Linked DNA regions of Homo sapiens. The main gene of each other region encodes a partner of the protein of the gene in region 3 in a complex. Each region holds a gene or a part of one and is shown on either strand. Other genes may lie near its edges. The genes, in order: DRC3, DRC8, DRC12 and DRC9.

Region 1 (5,656 bases), on a different chromosome or scaffold from region 3:
ATCTATTTAGCAGTAGCTTCCACTTGCTCACTGGGGTTCTGTGTGGGTTCAATTCATCTCCTCAAAGACTGGAACTGTCTTTCCTTGCCAGGGTCTTTCCTGGCCTGTGCCTGTGATAGGCCTTTTATAGGAGACTCCGGTAGCCGAGCTCCACTGTGCACCAGGTGCTTCCTGTACACGGCCTCTGATCCCCAGGACCCCGTGAGGCAGAGATGCTTCTCCCCATTTACAGTGAGGAAACTGAGTCAGCGAATGAAAGTGGGTCTCTCAAGGTCACACTGTTAAGTGACCCAGGCAGGATTCAAATTCAGGTTCACCTAACTCTGAAGTTGTAAGGCAGGTAAATTTTTTCCTCTAGCTTATCAGGGTCACTGACTGGGACCAAGAATTAAACTGACATAAGACAAACGAGAAAAGCATACAAATTTTATTGAGTAATTTGTACATGTACATGGGAGCATTCACAAGCAAAATGAAGGCTCAAGAAGCCGTTAGGGCCGAAAGCTTATATACTTAGTTGGACAGAGAGTAGTGAATTGTGAGAACGTGACAAGACAAAGAGGTTTGGGCTAAGGCAGTTCATCGTGGAGAAGTGACAAGGCAGATGAGCGTTAGTTTAACAAGGTTTGTTCACACAGATTCCCCTTGGCCCGGACTCCCTCCCTCTGATGATAAGAATGGCTTCTTGGCTGGGCACAGTGGCTCACACCTGTAATCTCAGCACTCTGGGAGGCCGAGGTGGGTGGATCATGAGGTCAGGAGTTCAAGACCAGCCTGGCCAAGATGGTGAAACCCCGTCTCTACTAAAAATACAAAAAAAATTAGCCGGTCATAATGGCAGGTGCCTGTAATCCTAGCTACTCAGGAGACTGAGGCAGAGAATTGCTTGAACTCAGGAGGCAGAGGTTGCAGTGACCGAGATCGTACCACTGCACTCCAGCCTGGGTGACAGAGTGAGACTACGTCTTTAAAAAAAAAAAAAAAAAAAAAAAAAAAAAAAAGAATGGTTTCTTTCCTCCTGGTACAGGGAGGGCACCTTTCCCATGGGAGATTTAACTTCTGCTTTCAGGAAGAAAAAGGGAGGTCAGGGTGTCCTCTTTGCATTTTCTGTTTTTAAGTATCTTTTTTTTTTTTTTTTTTTTTTTGAGACAGAGTCTCACTCTGTCGCCCAGGCTGGAGTGCAGTGGCACAATCTCGGCTCACTGCAAGCCCCACCTCCCAGGTTCACGCCATTCTCCTGCCTCAGCCTCCCAAGTAGCTGGGACTACAGGCACCCGCCACCATGCCTGGCTAATTTTTTTTTTTTTTTGTATTTTTAGTATAGATGGGGTTTCACTGTGATAGCCAGGATGGTCTCAATCTCCTGACCTCATGATCCACCCACCTCGGCCTCCCAAAGTGCTGGGATTACAGGCATAAGCCACTGCTCCCGGCCTTTAAGTATCTTTAACTCAAAATAATCACTATGCCAAAGCGGCATATTTTGGTGTGAAATGCTCTGAACCCCATGAAAGCCATGGCTCCTTCTACCCTGCCTACCAGCCTCTAATAAAAACCTGAGCTTACAGGGAGTGAGCACTTGCTAGTGCTCAAAGAGCCTCACATGTGTTCTCTCACTTGTGTCAAGGGTAGGGGCTATCAATCGCACTTTACAGACCAGGAAACTGAGGCATGGAGAGGGTAGGTAGCTTCTACACGCTTTCAGAGCCAGCAAATGGCAAAGCTGAGACTTGCACTTGGGCAGGCTGACTCGAGTCCAAATTCTTACCCACAAAACCAAATTGCCACCTGCCATTATCTAATTACACTTAGTTGTTGATTCCTAAAGTGCAGTCTATTGTTTCTAGAGTTTAAGTGCCATTCGAGAGGAGTTGGAACTGCCCAACATTGAGAAGATGATCCTAGAATGCAGTGCTGACATCAGTGAGTTGTTCGATGCGCTCATGACGCTGGAGATGCAGCTGGTGGAGCAGCTGGAGGTAAGGCTGGGCCCTGGGCACAAGTGCCAGAATCTGGCGATGCAGCTGCACATCCATAGGTGAACTGTAGCCTTCATGGGCACGCCTCTGCTGGAAACGTCCAGCACGACTCAGCGTGGCAGGCTGTAGCTTTCTTGCTCATCAGTCCTGTTTGCTTTTATTACATTTTAATCATTTACATTGGAAGTGATTCTTGTGGAAAATGAGAGGTGAGCTCATTCTTCTGAAATGGTCCCCCTATCCTGGAAGTCAGTGGGGAGAGGTTTTTGATTAGACCCCTGGAGCTATCCGGGTACTCTAAAGGCAAAGCGCACCCCCACTTGGGGACCAAACAAAGACCCCTCCGCATTGCAGCCTGCAGTTGCCGCTTCTCAGGTGACGTGAGGAGGCTGCAACTCAGCACTAAGTAGTGAAAATGAAAAGCGCCGCTGTCTGAAATTCATTAGCAGCCAGAGTATGTGTTACAAGGCAGCGGAGGCTGGGAGTCTGAAGTGGTGTGATGAATTGAACCTCATCGGATGCTGCTGTGGCTGGGCCAAGTGATAGCACCTAATCAATTCCTCACACGTCAAGTGACACCTCAGACATGGGATAGATTTCCCCATCACATCACAGGGCAGGTGCTCCCTCCCTGCTGGAGAGCACAGGCACTGCAGAAGCAGCGCACAGTGCCAGGGGCGAGTGAGGCAGCAGCTCCCAGCCTTTTCAGGCACGGAGATTGCCTTTCAACATCCAAACATTTCCCAGAACCCATGTGCCATCCTACTTGTATTACTGGTGGCCAGAAAGCCACAAGCGCAATCATGCTTTTCAATGACCCTATTTTTATTCACGAGAACAGCACATACATGTGTTTGAAAATTATGTGAGGTGCTCACTCTGCAGACAGTACTCACATTCCTATAGATTCCACCCCTGCCCACCTTGCAGCCCCTGGAGTCTATAGCAGATGGGAGTGGGGCACTCCGAGAGTGGCAGGCCTGGAGATCACATCTTCCATTGTTCCTTCAATCAACACTAACTCCCATTTGGGCCTTAGGTGCCTTGCTAAGCACCACAAAACAGCAACTAACTGAAAGAGATCTGGAGTGCCAGCCCGCTCCTACTGAGGGCCTCCTCTCTGTCAGGCACCTTGCAAAGCATTTTGTGTGAAGTGACTCATTTAACCTCACCACAACGCCACAACGCAGGGATTATGCAGGTAACCTATTTCCCAGATGAGGAAGATAAGGCCCAAGGAGGTGAAATGCCTTTCCCAGAGTTACACAGAGTGCTGGAGCTGGGAATACTGACCCAGGCAGTCTAGCTCTTAACAGCTCACTCCACTGTTTCCCTGGAGGTGATGCACAGATGTCACTGGGAAACCCAAAGGAGAGGGGGTTGGCTGTGTGTGTGTGTGTTGGGCAGGCAGGTAAGGGGAGTAAGACCAGGACAAGTGTTCCTGGCAAAGTTCCGGTGACAGCATTAAACATTCAGATGGTGAGGGAGTTAATATGGTTGGAGAACAACAACTTTAGAGAGAGCAGAGGGGTCAGTTCACAACCATCTGCTCAGGAGGGTCAAGATGGGTGGTCTTTATGCTGAAGGTCTGTGATTAGAGGAGCTGGTTGCTAAATTTTGAGGAGTACCTTTTGCTCTGTGCTGGACATCTAAATATGCATGTTAACTGTGTTCTTTAACATTTCCAGGAGACTATAAACATGTTTGAAAGGAACATTGTTGACATGGTAGGACTGTTTATCGAAAATGTCCAAAGCCTATATCCTTTCTGTGATGACCTTCCCCATGGGGAGGTGCTACAGAGCCCCTGGGCTTGTCCCGGCCTCTGGACAAAAGAATGTTCCACAGGGTCTGAGGAGGTTTCCCGACCCTCAGAACAATGATGGCCTGGTTAGAGCTGTGGTTTGGATGCCCAGAGGGACAACATCCAAACTGTTTGCAGTAGGCTCCCAGCATGATTGTTCTCATATGAGTGATGTTCACTAGGAAATGACGCCCCCTGTGTTGCAGGCAAGCACACTCTGGGGTTGAGGCAACCCCCACGTGGAAGACACTATAAGGAGTACATCAGGTGAAATGTTAGGGTGAGGAGCCAACATCGGAGCATGGCCAACCCTTCTTCCACCCGAACTCAGGGCACTCCACATGGGGCAAACTGCTGTGCTCCAGCTAGCAGCAGCCCTGTGGTCCTGCCCTCCTGGGGCTCACAGTCCCTCAGGGAGACAAGTTGTAGAGGCAACAAGTGGTGCCAAATGCACAGGGTGAGAAGCAGTTAACCCAGAGGCCAGGAGCCTCCATGCAGGAGGGAGAGAAGAGTGTGATGGCAGGGGCCGAGGGTCCGTCCGAGGTGTGGGGCAGGGGCAGGGAGTCGAGGAAGGCCCAGGGTTCGGAGCTTGTGAGTGGACGGTGCTGCCAGCCAGAATTTCCGAGCTCGCCTTGGGCCCTTAAAGTCTGTCTCCCGCCGTCTGAGAGCATCAGGGACGCGCCGGGCCTGCTCCTCCCGGGCCTTTGCTTAACTCGGGGCTGCACGATGGCTCAGTGCCGGGACCTGGAGAATCACCACCACGAGAAGCTCCTGGAGATCTCTATCAGCACCCTGGAGAAGATTGTCGAGGGCGACCTGGACGAGGACCTGCCTAACGACCTGCGCGCGGTAGGCGGGGCGGGCTGCTCGGAGCCTGACAGATGTGGTCCAGCCCAGCTCTGTGGCTGGACTGAGGCTCTGTGAGTAAGCCTGACAACCTCCCAGAGCCTCAGTGTTCTCATCTGCAAAAGGGCACACTAACCTGCTTTACAGGGTTGCTGGCAGATAAAATAGGCTAACAAAGCACCTGGTGGGGCACCCAGTGGGGCCCAGTTAAAGAGGAGCTCATGATAATTAGATGGTTTCAACTTTCCAACAGGGTCGTTTCCAAAAGTTCAATTATGTGGAGGCTTCTGGCACTTTCTAAGAGAAGCAGTTACAGGTAGAGGTTGAAGTCTGAGATTTCCCCTGGAGGTCTTCTTAACCTTAGAGTCTGTATAATGAGTACTGTGGGGGTGTTGGAACCACCATTTCTGATCCTGCACAATGCCATCCGGTTTGCACCAGCACATCCACTGATGAATGGTCACAAAATCAGCAGGGTCGGCCTGAGGAACCTGGCTCCATCCCTGGGGTCTGCACGCTAAGAAGGCTCTCCCGGATGTCTGCGCTGGGTCCCGCGGCAGCATGTCTATGTCTCTGGAAGGAGTGTGGGCATCAAGGGCCCAGACAGAGATACTATGTTGTCAGGGCCCAGACAGAGATACTATGTTGTCAGGGCCTGCTTTAGTGCATGCATCATTCACTCCACTGCCAGTTTCTCAGCTTCTCTCTGTCGCGACATCACCACCAAGGCAAGCCACCATCGTCCTTGGCCTGGACTGCTTGCCTCTTTACTGTCCTCTTACAGTCCGTCCTCCATGTGGCAGCCAGAGGGACCCTTGAAAACCCAAACCCTATCACTGCACACTTTTACACAACACCTTCTAGTGGCTTTCATGACCCCTAGCGTCAGCTCCTCCCCATAGTCCCCCAGACCCTCGGGCTGACCCTGCCCATCTGGGCGATTCCCACCCCCAGAACCCTCACTCCTGATGCTCAGCGGCAGCCTCTGAGCTCTTCCCCAGTCACCCAGGCTTGCTCCTTTCAGTTG
Region 2 (5,656 bases), on a different chromosome or scaffold from region 3:
GGCCTCAGTCAACAAAATTGTATCCATTTTTTCTGGACATTCTCAACCATTCCCAAGACTACAACCACTTACAGAGGAATACATTCAAGCGATCCAACACACATCATTCTCATTTTTCATTCAACAGATATTTAGGTACCAAGCACACAGTGCTGCCTATGTTATATCTCAACCTGAATGCCTCACAGGCACCCAAACTCAACATGTGCAAGACTAGAACTATTATTTACATAACTCTACTATTCCTCTTTATTCTTTGTTACCCAATCAGAAACCGTGTCCCTGACCTGACTCAATATTCATATCTGTCCTATTACAAAATCTATCCATTTCCTCTAGCCTATCTCCTTGTTTCATTCCTGACTTCCATTACTTTGGTTCAGGGTTTTATCTTTCTGGACTACTATACTGGGACAAACCTGGAGTCCCAAACCTGGAGTCCATCTAATCCACTGAGCACACTTGCCCAAGTGATTTTTCTAGACAACAAATATGATTGTCTCTTGCTAAAAAAAACTTTATTTTTTATTTTTTCATTTTTATTTTTTAGACAGAGTCTCATTCTGTCAGCCACGCTGGAGTTCAGTGGTGCAATCCTGGCTCACTGCAACCTCCACCTCCCGGGTTCAAGTGATTATCCTGCCTCAGCCTCCCATCTTGTTAAAAACTTTTTTTTTTTTTTTTTTGAGACGGAGTCTCGCTGTGTTGCCCTTGCTGGAGTGCAGTGGCGTGATCTCGGCTCACTGCAACCTCCACCTCCTGGGTCCACGCCATTGTCCTGCCTCAGCCTCCCAAGTACCTGGGACTACAGGCACCTGCCACCACGCCCAGCTAATTTTTTTTTTTTTTTTTTTTTTTTTTTTTAGTAGAGACGGGGTTTCACCGTGTTAGCCAGAATGGTCTTGATCTCCTGACCTCGTGATCCACCTGCCTCGGCCTCCCAAAGTGCTGGGATTACAGGCGTGAGCCACTGCACCCGGCCTTGTTAAAAACTTTTAATCACTCACCAATGCTTTAAGAATAAAAATTCCCACATCTCCTAACCCATCCTAAATTTCGGCCATATTGAGTCTTCACAATTTCAAGTATGTTATTTCTTCTCTTCCTGAAATATCCATCCCCTACTTGTTCTCTGTGCTATTACACCTTCAAGATAAGCCTGGGGCTGGGAGTCGTGGCTCACACCTGTAATACCAACACTTTGGGAGGCCAAGGTGGGCGGATCACATGAGGTCAGGAGTTCCAGACCAGCCTGGCCAACATGGTGAAACCCCGTCTCTACTAAAAATACAAAAATTAGGCCAGGCGCAGTGGCTCACACCTGTAATCCTAGTACTTTGGGAGGCCAAGGCAGGCGGATCATTTGAGGTCAGGAGTTCGAGACCAGACTGGCCAGTATGGTGAAACCCCGTCTACTAAAAATATAAAAAAATGAGCCCAGCATGGTGGCACATGTCTGTAATCCCAGCTACTTGGGAGGCTGAGACATAAGAATCGCTTGAACCCAGGAGGCAGAGGTTGCAGTGAGCCGAGATCACGCCACTGCATTCCAACCTGGGCGACAAGAGCAAGACTACGTCTCAAAAAAAAAAAAAAAAAAAAAAAAAAAAAAGATAAGCTTCGGTTATCTCCTTCAGAAAGCCAACTTTGATTCAACATTCAGCAAATACTGAGCTATATGCCATGCTCTGGGTATATGCATGAGCATGACCCCTATCCTTTTGGAAGTTAAGAGTCTAGGAGAAGCAGACATCAAACAACACATCTACAGGCAATTACAAAATATAGTATGAAAGAGGAAAAAAACAAATAGCTATGAGAGGGAATAAAAAGGGGCTATAATTTAAAGAGGGTGTGTGTGAATCAGGTGACTCTCCCCAGGCACCCAATCATCATACATGTGCAACTATCATAGCACTTATCACATTATTGTATCATTGTCTCCTTAGCTGCCTATCTTCCTCTTTAGATGGAAATTCTTCAAACCAAAGGTCAGATAAATTGACACTAACAAGCAAAATCTTAAAAAGAATAAAAAAAAAGGCAATGTCCAAATTCTAGTCCAGGTTTTTAAACTCCCAATTTTACTAGTGCATTTAAAAAAATAAAATTATGGGCCAGAGGTGGTGGCTCAAGCCTGTAATCCCAGCACTTTGGGAGGCCAAGGTGGTAGGATTGCCTGAGGCCAGGAGTTTGAGACTAGCCTGGGCAACAGAGCAAGATCTTATCTCTACCAAAAATAAAAATGTTAGTTGGGCACAGTGGCACGCCCCTGCAGTCCCAGCTACTTGGGAGGCCAAAGTGGGAAGATCACTTGAGCCCAGAAAGTAGAGGCTACAGTGAGCTGTGATCAAGCCACTGCACCCCAGCCAGGGTGACAGAGTGAGACCTCGTCTCTTTTTTTTTTTTTTTTGAGACGGAGTTCCGCTCTTGTTGCCTAGGCTGGAGTAAAATGGTGCTCTCAGCTCATCACAACCTCCGCCTCCCGGGTTCAAGTGATTCTCCTACCTCAGCCTCCCGAGTAGCTGGGATAACAGGCATGCGCCACCATGCCCAGCTAATTTTGTATTTTTAATAGAGACGGGGTTTTCCCGTGTTGGCCAGGCTGGTCTTGAATTTCCAACCTCAGGCGATCCGCCAGCCTCAGCCTCCCAAAGTGCTGAGATTACAGGCGTGAGCCACTGCGCCCGGCCTAGATCTCATCTCTTAAAAAATAAAAATAAAAACTAAAATTACTTTTTTACAGTCTTAATATCTATAAAATCCATACTAGAGGTTTACAAAGGATTGTCAAGTACAGGATCTGGTAAACACACTTTCACAAGTGGGTAAGAATAATTTTTAATTAGCATATTTAAGTGGGTTTTTAAAGTTTTGTAGAACTGACATTAAAATGAGATTTTAAAAATAAGTGCCCCTAAAAGTCTAATCACCCTGCTATCATCATCATCTCCTGGGCTCCCCCACGTGTCCTTACCCATTTACACATATAATTTTTATATATTTGGCTGCAACCCAACAAGTGGACATACAACCATTTATTTTGTATGCCCCATTAGTTGGACATGCAAATGTTATCTATATTTTCAAATTTATAGATAACTTTATGTTGATCATTTTTGTGCTTAGAGCATTTTTTATTCTTTTCAGAATATATTTCTAAGGATAAATATCCAGAAGTATATTAAAGCTCAAAGCATGTGGACATCACTTTTTATTATTATTTTTTATTTTTTTGGTTTTAAGAAATAGAGAGTTTAACAGGCAAGAAGGAGCAAGAAAGGAGAAGGAAGAAGCTTCCCTGTACAGAGACAGAGGGATGGGGGCTCCAAAGCCAACAGAGGGAACCCCCGACTTCTTTATTATTATTTATTTTATTTTTAGCAAAGATGAGGTCTCAGCATGTTGCCCAGGCTGGTCTCGAACTCCTGGTCTCAAGTAATCCTCCTACCTCAGCCTCCCAAAGTGCTGAGTTTACAGATGTGAGCCACCTTGCCTAGCCATCATCATTTATTCTTCAATACAAATTTCCAAATTGCCTTTGAAAAACAATGTACCATTTCTTTCATTCTGAATGTACTCAACATTTTCTATTTACTAAAATGTGGTAAAATACACATAATGTAAAACTTACTGTATTAACCACTTTTAACCATATAGTTCAATAGTGTTAAGTACCTTCACACTGCTGGGCAACCAATCTCCAGAACTTCCTTCATCTTGCAGAACTGGAACTCTACACTCCTTAAACAACTTCCCATTCTCCTCTCCCCACAGCCCCTGGCAACCAGCAATCTACTTTCTGTCTCCATGAATTTGACTTCTCTAGGTACCTCATGTAAGTGGAATCACAGAGTATTTGTCTTTTTGACTGGCTTATTTCACTTAGCATGATGTCTTTCAGGTTCATTCAAGCGGTAGCATGTGTCAGAATTTCCTCCTTTGAAGGCTGAATAATATTTCACTACACGTATATACCACATTTGGTTTGTTCATTCATCCGCTGATGGACACTTGGCTTGCTTCCACCTTTTACCTACTGTGAACAATGTGCTATGAACATGGTTGTGCAAATATCTCTTCGAGGCCTTGCTTTCAATTACTGTGGATATATACCCACACGTGGAACTGCTGGGTCACATGGTAACTCAACTTTTAACTTTCTGAGGAACCGCCATACCACTTTCCATAGTAGCTGCACCATTTCTCATTGCCACCAACAGTCCACGAGGGTTCCAGTTTCTCCACATCCTCACCAATACTTATTATTTGGGGGACTTCTGGTGATAATAGCCTTCCTAACAGGCGTGAGGTAGTATCTCACTGTCCATTTGATCTTTAAAATTATGACTATTCTTGAGACATTTCTGTAAATTTTATATATCAGAGCAAAAACAAATTTCAGTCCAGTTTTTCTTCAAATTTTTTTTTATTCTGAATAAGAGGAAACAAATTAGGCTTCAAAAAGCTAGTCTTCTTGTTTGCTTAGTCTTAACCGGATATTTATATTGGTCTAAAACAGGAAGAAAACTTATTAAATTACCCCAGAAATATGCAGGAATGCATTATGCATGATCCCAATTGGTAAGACTTAAAAGTTTTCTTAACTCTTATGTTTTATTTGTTTTTTTGTTTTGAGATGGAGTCTTGCTCTGTTGCCTGGGCTGGAGTGCAATGCTGCGATCTAGGCTCACTGCAACCTCCATCCCCCAGGTTCAAGCAATTCTCCTGCCTCAACCTCTAGAGTAGCTGGGATAACAGGCAACCACCACCACACCCAACTAATTTTTGTATTTTTCGTAGAGAGAGCGTTTCACCATGTTGGTCAGGCTGGTCTCGAACTCCTGACCTCAGGTGATCTCCCCACCTCGGCCTCCCAAAGTGCTGGAATTACAAGCAGGAGCCACCACGCCTGGCCAACTCTTATGTTTTATGTTAAGCAGATACTAATACTTACTAATTCACTAGATACGTACCAAACACTTTCTTTCCCATTTATTCAGCATTCCTTTATTGTATTTTTTATTTATTTATTTATTTATTTTGAGACAGAGTCTCACCCTGTTACTCAGGCTGGAGTGCAGTAGTGTGATCTCAGCTCACTGCAACCTCCACCTCCTGGGTTCAAGCGATTCTCCTGCCTCAGCCTCCTGAGTAGTTGGGATTACAGGCACGCGCCACCACACTCAGCTAATTTTTTGTATTTTTAGTAGAGACAGGGTTTCACCATGTTGGCCAGGCTGGTTTTGAACTCCTGACCTCAAGTGATCCACCTGCCTGGGCCTCTCAAAGTGCTAGGATTACAGGCGTGAGCCGGCCTCAGCATTCCTTTGATGCCAGGCACTGTGGCAGGTGCTGGGGATGTAAAAATGAATAAGAAAACATTGTCCCCATTACAACATTATGAAATATTGGGGGTATAATTATCCCCACTTTACATCTGAGGAACTTGAAGCTACTTATGTTTAGCATCTCGGCTAAGATCAGATAATTAGAGCTTGGGGAAGACGGAATTCAAATTCAAGTCTTACTTCAAAGCTCAACCTTTGTACTGTCCCACAGGCTACACTCTATACTATCGACAGTTACTATGAGGCCAGGCAGGGTGGCTCATGCCTGTAATCTCAGCACTTTGGGAGGCCAAGGCAGGCAGATC
Region 3 (5,244 bases):
CTGTGTCTCCCTCACTGTCGTCGACCCTGAGGCGGACCGCTTCTTCAGCATGGTGCGTGCTGAGGGGCAGGGGCTAGGGTTGGGGCAGGAGTGGGGCAGGGCTGAGGTCCGAAAGATTTGCTCTCCCTGCCACCTTCCAGGTTCGCCTGTCCCCACTCCTCTTCTTGGAGAACACAGAGGCTCCCGCCTCGCCCCGGGGCAGCAGCTCAGCCTCACTGGTTGAGACAGAGGACCCTTCACTTGAAGACACAAGCGTGCCTTCTGTCCCTCTTGGCTCCCGACAGTGCTTCCTGTACCCTGGGCCTGGTGGCAGCTATGGCTTCCGACTCAGTTGTGTGGCCAGTGGGCCTCGTCTCTTCATCTCCCAGGTGACTGATGCCCCATGGATCTTGAATCCCTTCGATCCTTTGCTGCCTGATCGGTCTTCCTCTGCTTCCCTCCCAGAGCCTAAAGCCAGCAAACTTTCCCCCGGTGTCCCCTGTTCTGCATGCCCCCACAACACCAGGTGACTCCAGGAGGCTCAGCTGCCCGGGCTGGGCTGCAAGTGGGAGACGTGATTCTGGAAGTGAACGGGTATCCTGTTGGGGGACAGAATGACCTGGAGAGGCTTCAGCAGCTGCCTGAGGCTGAGCCACCCCTCTGCCTGAAGCTGGCAGCCAGGTCTCTGCGGGGCTTGGAAGCCTGGATTCCCCCTGGGGCTGCAGAGGTGAGGAAGAAGAAACAGATGGGACTGTGAGTAGCTACAGAGGGCAGGGAGGAGTGAGAAAGAAGGGCAGAGTGGGCGAGGTACAAGGTGAAGCCGTGTGGGGTATGCAGGTTGGGACTTCAGGTCGTGGTAGGTGGGGACAGAAGGACTCGTGAAATAAACCCCATTTCTGGGCATTCCAGTGCAGGGCGGGGCAAGAAAAAGGAACTCTTCTGGGTCCCACCTGGAATGACCTTCTACCTCCTCTCTCTGTATAGGACTGGGCTCTGGCCTCGGATCTACTGTAGAGCACCCCTGCTTGGTACAGACATACTCAGGGGCTACCGTGTCTTCACTCTCCAGCCTGAGGTGGTGAAGGCAGGATGCTCTCTCTAAGCCAGACCAGAGGGACTCAGACACCACCGATCACAGGCTGGCCCAGGTGCTCCCTCCCTTCCTGCAGGCCCACCTGCCAGCAGAGGGTGTGGTTGGAGGCCTCAGACAGGTCCCTGAAGGAGTCTGAGGCTCCAGAGGATGTCATATGGGAGTTTTAGAGAGCTGTGTCCCAAGGATGAAGGTGTGGCTGTGGGTCTGGCTAGGATTGAAGCCATCTGGACCTTTTCTAGATATGACTCCAGGACCCTTGAGTGTAATGCAAAAATTTGGAGACCAGCTATGCCTGCCCTCTGTGGGTGCCTTAGCATTGCGGGAGGGTGGTGCTTGGTCACCGTTGCATTTGTTATAGAAATGGCCATTCGCCATAAATCTGACTGCCTGTGTTTGTGTTGGTGGGGGTAAGGGGCAGTGGTGTGAAGGGACCAAAAGGGCCTCAGGCTCAAGGGGTGGGATGCGGCTCCTGCAGGAGAGAGGTTGAGACCTGGTCAAATTTATTTCCTATCAATCACTGAATCTCAGGGATAATGGGTCAACCCAGAACTGAGATGTCTGTATGACAGCCACTCCTAAAAATAAACAACAACAAAAACAAAAAAAGAAGAAAACTAAATAAAAATAAAAATAAAAATAAGATCCACTTCTCTCTGCCAAACGGCCAGAGCCCACAGCTCTATTGAGTTCTACATCAAGACACTTTATTGCTGGGGCCTCAGAGAACACTAGAGACTAGGGGCTGGTGGCCTCAAAGATCCAGGGGGGGTGAGTCCAAACTGGCGTTGCTGCTCCTTGTGCCTGGCGTGAAGTCTCAGTGCTGCCCCATCCCACTGCTGCTTGATGGCTCTCAGCTTGGCCAAGAGCCTGTCCAGACTGTCCTGCAGACATCAATATTTCAGACCCCAGAAAGAGAGAGAGGGAAGGAGTGAGTGCTGCCCCAGGTTGGTTCATAAGCTTTCCTTGCCCAGTAGACATGGTCGTATCCCCTCTGTCTGCCCTCAGGATAGAGCAGGGCTCCCTTGGAGACGCTCCTTCTCCTTAACCCTGGGTTGTCAGTCATCATACGAGCTGGGGTTTGTGGGCATGGGGGAGTCCTGGGTACTGGGATGGCTGGGATCCAGGGGGTGGTGCTTACGTGTAAGATTTCCTCATACTTCGCCTCCATGTCTGCCATGTGGGCCCGAAGCTGAGCCAGGGCCTGGTCCCGCTCTCCGAGAGCTTGTTCAGCCTCTTCCCGGGCAGCTGCAGCCTCCCTTTGGCATGCCTCTGGGGGCAGGCAGGATGAAAGAGAGCAGGATGGTGACACTCTATCCTTGACCAGTCTCTCCAAAGGTATCTGGAAAGGAGACCTCAAATGGGCTCGTTCCAGACTCCCCCAGCATCACCAAATTTCCCGCAGTCCCTGTAAAAGCTGAAGCTCCACTGAGGTATATAGCAGAGAGTGGCGGGCTTGAGATAGAAGGCTCCAAAGTCGGATTACTACCTAGGTGACCACATGCATGTCTCTTTCTGAGCCTTGGTGTCTTCATCTTTTTTTTTTTTTTTAGATGGAGTCTCACTCTGTCGCCAGGCTGGAGTGCAGTGGCGCGATCTCAGCTCACTGCAACTGCCACCTCCTGGGTTCAAGCAATTCTCCTGCCTCAGCCTCCCGAGTAGCTGGGATTACAGGCACATGCCACCATGCCCAGCTAATCTTCGAATTTTTAGTAGAGATGGGGTTTCACCATGTTGGCCAGGATGGTCCCTATCTCTTAACCTTGTGATCCGCCCGCCTCGGCCTCCCAAAGTGGTGGGATTACAAGTGTGAGCCACCGCGGCTGGCTGGTGTCTTCATCTGTAAAGAGAGAATGACACATCCCTCAGGGGCATGCTGTGACCTTTAAACATGATAAATGGATGACAAAGCACCTAGCTAGTATACAGGAGGTGCTCAGTAAACATTGATTCATTGGCCGGGTGCGGTGGCTCACGCCTGTAATCCTAGCACTTTGGGAGGCCGAGGAGGGCGGATTACCTGAGGTCAGGAGTCCGAAACGAGCCCGGCCAACATAGGTGAATCTCCATCTCTACTAAAAATACAAAAATTAGCCAGGCATGGTGGCGCACACCTGTAATCCCAGCTACTCGGGAGACTGAGGCAGGAGAATTGCTTGAACGTAGGAGGTGGAGGTTGCAGTGAGCCGAGATTTGCCATTGCACTCCAGAATGAGCGACCAGAGTGAAACTCCGTCTCAAAACAAAAAACAAAAAACAAAAAAATCCCCAAAACAACAACAGCAAAAACAAAAACAATTGAGTCATTGATTGACTTGGAATTTGAGGTAAAGCAAAGATTAGGAAAGGAACCCAGAGTCTGAATGGCAGATAAGCAGCTCCTGGCCATCTATAGCTAAACCGAAGGCCTTTTTTTTTTTTTTTTTAGTTGGAATCTTACTCTGTTGCCGAGGCTGGAGTGCAGTGGTGCGATCTCGGCTCACTGCAGCCTCCGCCTCCTGGGTTCAAGTGATTCTCCTGACTCAGCCTCCCAAGTAGCTGAGATTACAGGCACACGCCACCATGCTCAGCTAATTTTTGTAATTTTAGTAGAGATGGCATTTCACCATACTGGCCAGGCTGGTCTCAAACTCCTGGCCTCAAGCAATTCTCTTGCCTTGGCCTCCCAAAGTGCTGGGATTACAGGGGTGAGCCACCGCACCCGGTTGAAGGCATTTTTAAGGTATGAAAACTTTGAGACCAAAATTGTGAAAGAGCTCATGTGTCATGCTGAGATATTTCAACATTATTTTGTAAGCAAGAGACAAGAGAAGCAAAGGCTTCCTGGTTTTTAAAAATATTTTTGCTTATTAGGAGTGTTTATTCATTTATTTGGTGAACAGTTATTTAGGATCTACCAGATGCTAGGTCTTGAAGATACAGAAGTAAATAAGTCAAACATTTCCCCTTAGTTTCATTGTAGAAATCAGCTAAACTAAAAGGGAATATGTTTTGCTCACAAGAGACATGGCAGTGGTGGGGAGTTAGGGCTGGACTTGAGAGGAGGAAATGGGGTGTGAGGCCTACATCTTCTTTTTTATTTTTATTTATTTTTTTGAGACAGAGTCTTGCTCTGTTGCCCAGGCTGGAGTGCAATGGCGTGATCTCGGCTCACTGCAACCTCTGCCTCCTGGGTTCAAGCGATTCTCCTGCTTCAGCCTCCCGAGTAGCTGGGATTACAGGTGTGCGCCACCACATCCGGCTAATTTTTATATTTTTAGTAGAGACGGGGTTTTGCCATTTGGCCAGGCTGTTCCTGGACTCCTGACCTCAGGTGATCCGCCCGCCTTGGCCTCCCAAAGTGCTGGGATTACAGGCCTGAGCCACCGCGCCTGGAGCCTCTTCTTTACTTACAGCAGAGATTTTTGGTATCCCGAACCCTCTGCTGCAGTCCTCAGTGGTGGAGGGTCAGCGAAAGTGGGGAAAGTGATCCAAGAGCCCAGACGGCAGCTTTCTGGAGCAGAGACTTTGAAGTCTACCCCTTCATGCTGGCCCTTGCTGCAACTCTTGGAGAGAAGGGGCTTGGAGGGTGGGGAAACCTACCTAGCTGCCCCCGAAGGCCTTTGACTTCTTCCTCCAGCTGCTTGCTGCGGGTTTGCATATCCTCCTGCAGGGCATGGCACTGGCGACTCATCTCTGGGGTGGGGGCAGTGGGCCACCAGGGACCCAGGTTGGAGATGGAGGGATGGAGAAAGGAAATGAAGTTGTGGGTGGGGAAGACTCTACTTGGTCTAGTGGAACAGGAGCACAAAGGCCTTCTTGGTTCTTTTTGTGATTCTGAGAAGCTGCAGACCATGAAAACCTGAGGAAGGGACAGGAAGCCCGACCTACCTCCCCCAGTCCAGCTTTGGATGGGGATGCTAGCCCTTCTCCCCGCCCATGGGCTGATTGAGATGATGGCTATGACTGCATGTGTATCCTACACAGCATCAAGCACATGGCACCAGGCATCCTGGAAGGCCCCTGCCTGGGATCCCAGGAACCTACCTGCCTTTGGTTCCTGCAGGATCCTTCCTGATTTGTACTGTTTGGGAAAGACCAAGACCAGGCCTGGCAGTCGGAAGCCCTCCTTGTTTCCCTTCCTTGCATCAACTGACCCTGTTGGTTGTCCTCCTCCAAGCCCCTGTCTCCTGCCC
Region 4 (5,656 bases), on a different chromosome or scaffold from region 3:
CAGCCTGAGTGACAGAACAAGACCGTCTCAAAAACAACAACAACAACAACAACAACAAAGCCGGGCGCAGTGGCTCATGTCTGTGATCCCAGCACTTTGAGAGACCAAGGCAGGAGGATCCCTTGAAGCCAAGAGTTTGAGACCAGCCTGGGCAACAGAGTGAGACCCCCATCTCTAAAAATATTAAAAAGTTAGCCAGGCATGGTGACATGCACCTGTAGTACTAGCTACTTGGGAAGATGGCTTGAGCCCAGGAATTGGAGGTTATAGTGAGCTGTGATCGAGCCACTACACTCCAGCCTGAGTGACAGAGGGAGATCCTGTCTCTAAACAAAAAAATTTTTTTAATACAAAAGAACTAATTCTACCCTACTTACATGGTTAAGACGAAAGGCAATTGGAGGCCAGGCGTGGTGGCTCACGCCTGTAATCCCAGCACTTTGGGAGACCGAGGCAGGTGGATCACCTGAGGTCGGGAGATCAAGACCATCCTGACCAATGTAGAGAAACCCCATCTCTACTAAAAATACAAAATTAGCTGGGTGTGGTGGTGAGCACCTGTAATCCCAGCTACTCAGAAGGCTGAGGCAGGAGGATCACTTGAACCTGGGAGGTGGAGCTTGCAGTAAGCCAAGATCATGCCACTACACTCCAGCCTGGGCAACAAGAGCGAGCCTCCATCTCAAAAAAAATGTAAAAAGAGAAGAAAGGCGGTTGGTATCTAGAGGAGCAGGTCTCGGGTTGAAGCACTTTTGTTGCTAGTCGTGTGCTTGTTTGCTGTGCCGTCAGGTCCCCTCCCTGTGGACTTACTCACACACTGATTCCGCCCAAACAGTTCTTTTCAAACAAATGTTACCTCCCTGACTAAAAGCTTTCCAAGGATTCCCATGACAGTTGGAATAAAATCTGAATTTCTCAGTTGGGTCTCCGGGGTCCTGTGTGGTGCCCTTACCGACCTCCAACCTCATCCTGTCCTCCCCTCAACCCTCACTAGGCTAGAGCCTCCGGAGCTTTCTTTCAGTTCCTGGAATGTATCCAGGTCTTGATTGCTTCAGGATTTGGGCATATACTTATTCTTTTTTTTTTTTTTAGAGTTCCCTTAACCCTATTTTTCTTTTCTTTTTCTTTCCTTTTTTTCTTTTTCTTTTCTTTTTTTTTTTTTTTTTTGAGACAGAATCTCGCTCTATCACCCAGGCTGGACTGCAGTGGCATGATCTCAGCTCACTTCAACCTCCACCTCCCGGGTTCAAGTGATTCTTCTGCCTCAGCCTCCCGAGTAGCTGGGATTACAGGCGCCCGCCACCACTCCCAGCTATTTTTCGTATTTTTAGTAGAGACGGGGTTTCACCATGTTGGCCAGGCTGGTCTCAAACTGCTGACCTCAGCTGGTCGCCATGCCTCAGCCTCCCAAAGTGCTGGGATTACAGGCGTGAGCCCCCGTGCCTGGCCAAGCCTATTTTTCATGTGGTGGGCTTACCTGTCCTTCAGGTATCGAATGAGCCATCGCTTTCCCGAGAGAGTCCTTCTCAGACCTTCCAGAGTCTAATGTACTCCTCCCTTGTTATTTCCTCCCACAGCCTCTCGAGCCTTCCTTTTCTATCATTTTGCACAATTTTTGGAAGTTTACACATGTGTTTGTCTCTTTTTAACCACCTCTCTTCTATTAGACTGTAAGCTCTATGAGGGAAGGGAATATGTCTGTTTAGATCTCCACAATTTTCCTAGCTCAGTGCCTGGTGCTGAATAAATATTTTTCTTAATGACTATTGAGTCCTCACAATTGCCAAGCACTTGGTGACCTGCAAAAAGAAAGCGTTTTCACACGTGTTCTCAAGGAAACCTAATAATCACTCTCTGAGATACTTCAGGCAGGTTGGGTGTTTGTATGTTTGTGTGTTTGTTTTATAGAAAGTAAAAAGTTGGAGATTTGACTTGGCCAAGTTCACACAGCTGGAGGCCTGGGTGGGAAGTCAGTTCTTTTGATCATTTTGACCAGTGTTCTTCCTACCAAAATGAGAAAGCTGTGTGGGACATACGGAGTACAGCAATAATGTGCCTGGGAACTAATCTCACAGCCCTGATGCGCCCTGATTCTTAGAAATGCTGTGTTACTCACTTTCATCTATACACTTCATGATTGTTGGCTAAATTTCCCATTGTGTGACAGCGGAAAAATAGTTCCAGTTCCTTATTGATTTATACGCATAAAAGGGAACCGTAAGCCGCTGACTGAACTGAATGGAGGTAGAATGTATTTTCAATTTAGAAACCTGGTCTTTCCACTACAGAGTCAGAATGAGTATATTGCTAACCTCAAGGACCAACTGCAAGAGATGAAGGCAAAATCCAACTTGGAGAATCGCTACATGAAAACCAATACCGAGCTGCAGATTGCCCAGACCCAGAAAAAGTGTAACAGAACAGAGGAACTCTTGGTGGAAGAGATTGAGGTAATCCCTGGGACATTAGCCAAGAACCCAGGAGATGGCAATTGAGCTGTCACTCCTGATCCCCTCTCAGCTAACAAAGGAGGGAGACAAAGATTTCCCTCCATCTCTATCGGCAACAGCCCCTCCACTTGAGGTTGAAAATAAAAGCCTAAATGAGGATATGCGTGTTCGCAAGCAGAGATTCCAGTGGGCTGTAGCCTCCATCTCCCGCCTCATAATGACTTTGAAAATTGGCTGCACTTTCTCTCCTTGGTCACTTCTTATTTTGGCAAACCAATCACCATTTTTCTGACTAATTATAGGGAGAGGGCAAAACGAGGTGCTTAGTTATGGCAGGATTTTGCTGCTGTTTCTTTCATCTAACCAGTACCTTTCACTCCTCCAGTAAGAAATACAGCATCGAGAGCGCTGAACTTCGTTCAAACCTGAGTTTATAGGATGAGAAGTCACGGTGAAAAATGCCAGGAGGAAGAAAGAAGTGGTAGATCTTCTTTGAGGGGAATGCTAAATGGCACACACGCACGCACGCACACACGCACGCACGCACGCACGCACACACGCAAAGCCAGGCACTAGTCCCAGCTAATCGGAGGTGAGGCAGTGAGGCAGGAGGATCCTTGAGTTTGAAGCCAGCCTGGGCAACTTCAGACTTCAACTAGGGAGACTCCCTTCTCACAAAAAAGAAAAGAAAACAAGAAAGAGCAGCAGGCAGATGGGAAGAGGGAAGCAGGAACAAACGTCCTTGGGCCGTGGAATCTGTGTGTGGGAGGACTCCTCGCTCTGAGACTGACGTGGCTCAAGGCCACGTCAACACTCTTCCTGGCACTCCGGAATCCCCCTTTTTAAGCCCCACAGCCTTGTGCCCTTGGAGCGCCGTTTCTGTCCTTCAGTGGGCACCTCTGTTCAGCTCACGGGATTGTGCTCGTCTCGTTAGGGACACACGCAGTCCACACAGTGCCGCGCCACGTGGCTCTGCAGTGTTGGTGAACAGGAGTTGCAGGGAACTGAAAGCCCGGGATCCCAGCTGGTAAAGGGAGCCTCAGCTACCGACCGAGCTGCTGCTCTCATCTTGAGAACTTCTGATTCCCAGCCCTGCGGGGAAGACGTACTGGTATCTGATTGTTCTTACAGAAACTCAGGATGAAAACCGAAGAAGAGGCCCGGACTCATACAGAGATTGAAATGTTCCTTAGAAAGGAGCAGCAGGTGGGTCCCCACAGCTTTTCTATGCTTTGACTTTTTTTTTGTACTCTGCTTATACTGAGGAAACAAAAAGAATATTTTGAAGGAAAACCAACCATCATTCTTTCAGCCTAATGAACTTTAGCTCATGTTTTCTTTCAGGGTTATGCATCTGAATAGATATCTTATATAGCTGTAATTTGAGAGAGTGCAGGTAAAATTTTGTTTTCTGCTTTTATCATTGAGCTTACATAAGAAATTTTTCGATTTCTATATTGCTGTATACTCATAATTTTCAAATTATGACTTAATTTATGACTTAAAATTTATTAAGTCAAATTATGACCTACAAATTTATGGGCTGGGCACAGTGGCTCACGCCTGTCATCCCAGCACTTTGGGAGGCCGGGGAGGGTGGATCACCTGAGTTCAGGAGTTTGGGACCAGCCTGACCAATATGGTGAAACCCTGTTTCTATTAAAAAATACAAAAATTAGCCGGGCATGGTGGTGCGCCTGTAATCCCAGCTATTCAGGAGGCTGAGGTGGGAGAATTGCTTGAACCTGGGAGGCAGAGGATGCAGTGAGCTGAGATCACGCCACCGTACTCCAGCCTAGGCAACAGAGCGAGACCCCGTCTCAAAAACAAAAACCAAAAAAAGACATAATTTTTAAATTAATTATTTTTAAATTATGACTATATTTAAAAATTTTTCCCAATAGTATAGTGGCCAATAAATAAAAAAGAAAAATAAATAAAGGCCGGACATGGTGGCTCACGCCTGTAATCCCAGCACTTTGGGAGGCAGAGGCCAGCGGATCACCTGAGGTCAGGAGTTCGAGACCAGCCTGGCCAACATGGAGAAACCCCGTCTCTACTAAAAATACAAAAATTAGCCAGGCATGGTGGCGGGCGCCTGTAATCCCAGCTACTCAGAAGGCTGAGGCAATAGAATCGCTTGAACCCAGGAGGCAGAGGTTACAGTGAGCCGAGATCATGCCACTCACTCCAGCCTGGGCAACAGAGCAAGAATCTGTCTCAAAAAAAAAAAAATTTACTAATCTTTTACACTATAAAAATAACATTCCCAGTTGAGTGAAGATTTTTAAAATTACTCATTGCTTTTCATTTTTTATGTTATTACAGTTTCTTTATAAAATAATTGAAAATTGTGTTTAACGTTCCATTGAATGGTTGTGCCACAGTTTATTTGTTACACTTTTTTTTTATATTTAGGTTGTTTCTAAAGTTTGTTATTATAAATAATGCACTCATTAAAGCTTTGCCCAAAGAACTGTTTTTCTTCATGGCAACTATTTACTAAAAGCCAATCTCAGTCATGAGATTTTTGTTTCAGAGACTAGTATTTTGTGACTTTTAATAAACATTGCTAATACTCTCGAATCTGTGCTGCCGTTAGCAGTGTTGCAGGCAGTAATTTCAAGGTCTCTTCAATATTAGTAGCCATTTTCAATATTTTTCAAAGTCTGCTAATTTAATGAGTTGTTTTATTTTTTATTTTTGCTTATTAACAGGTGAACATAACATTTTTCCACATGTTTACTCAATTTATTTCTTCTTGTGTGAAATATATATGACACGGTGGTTTTAAGAGCATTTTCAATACTAATAACCAAGCTGGGTCTATAATATATCTAAGGTTAGAATTATGTCTAAGTCTACCTGGAGTCTTTCTTTCTTTTTTTTTTTTTTTTTGTTTTGTTTTTGAGATGCAGTCTTGCTTTACTGCCCAGGCTGGAGTGCAGTGGCGTGATCTTGGCTCACTGCAACCTCGGCCTCCTGGGCTCAAGCGATTCGCCTGCCTCAGCCTCCTGAGTAGCTGGGATTACAGGCGCACGTCCAGCTAATTTTTGTATTTTTAGTAGAGATGGGGTTTCACTGTGTTGACCAGGCTGGTCTAGAACTCCTGACCTCAGGTAATCCACCTGCCTCGGCCTCCCAAAGTGCTGGGATTACAGGCGTGAGCCACCGTGCCCAGCCCCAGCTGGAGTCTTTCAAAATAA

What was found.
Region 1: DRC12 (region 3) and DRC3 share a complex: the UniProt entries of both Homo sapiens proteins name them as parts of the nexin-dynein regulatory complex.
Region 2: DRC12 (region 3) and DRC8 share a complex: the UniProt entries of both Homo sapiens proteins name them as parts of the nexin-dynein regulatory complex.
Region 4: DRC12 (region 3) and DRC9 share a complex: the UniProt entries of both Homo sapiens proteins name them as parts of the nexin-dynein regulatory complex.

Annotation. Positions count from the first base shown.
Region 1 is NC_000017.11:18,002,516-18,008,171, forward strand, and holds part of DRC3 (dynein regulatory complex subunit 3), read left to right. Parts: intron 1-1,847; coding exon 1,848-1,979; exon of another isoform or gene 1,980-1,989; intron 1,990-3,667; coding exon 3,668-3,738; intron 3,739-4,508; coding exon 4,509-4,632; intron 4,633-4,882; coding exon of another isoform or gene 4,883-4,930; exon of another isoform or gene 4,931-5,419; intron 5,420-5,656. UniProt on the Homo sapiens protein: Component of the nexin-dynein regulatory complex (N-DRC) a key regulator of ciliary/flagellar motility which maintains the alignment and integrity of the distal axoneme and regulates microtubule sliding in motile axonemes.
Region 2 is NC_000001.11:244,975,249-244,980,904, reverse strand, and holds part of DRC8 (dynein regulatory complex protein 8), read right to left. Parts: intron 1-5,656. UniProt on the Homo sapiens protein: Component of the nexin-dynein regulatory complex (N-DRC), a key regulator of ciliary/flagellar motility which maintains the alignment and integrity of the distal axoneme and regulates microtubule sliding in motile axonemes.
Region 3 is NC_000011.10:119,188,500-119,193,743, forward strand, and holds the end of DRC12 (dynein regulatory complex protein 12), read right to left. Parts: intron 4,745-5,244; coding exon 4,652-4,744; intron 2,342-4,651; coding exon 2,211-2,341; intron 2,143-2,210; exon of another isoform or gene 2,068-2,142; intron 1,954-2,067; coding exon 1,801-1,953; 3' UTR 1,755-1,800; downstream 1-1,754. Other genes in the region: NHERF4 (Na(+)/H(+) exchange regulatory cofactor NHE-RF4), read left to right, coding at 1-52, 141-368, 506-706, 964-993. UniProt on the Homo sapiens protein: Component of the nexin-dynein regulatory complex (N-DRC), a key regulator of ciliary/flagellar motility which maintains the alignment and integrity of the distal axoneme and regulates microtubule sliding in motile axonemes.
Region 4 is NC_000003.12:197,910,675-197,916,330, reverse strand, and holds part of DRC9 (dynein regulatory complex protein 9), read left to right. Parts: intron 1-2,288; coding exon 2,289-2,450; coding exon of another isoform or gene 2,451-2,495; exon of another isoform or gene 2,496-2,609; intron 2,610-2,835; exon of another isoform or gene 2,836-2,931; intron 2,932-3,581; coding exon 3,582-3,656; intron 3,657-5,656. UniProt on the Homo sapiens protein: Component of the nexin-dynein regulatory complex (N-DRC), a key regulator of ciliary/flagellar motility which maintains the alignment and integrity of the distal axoneme and regulates microtubule sliding in motile axonemes.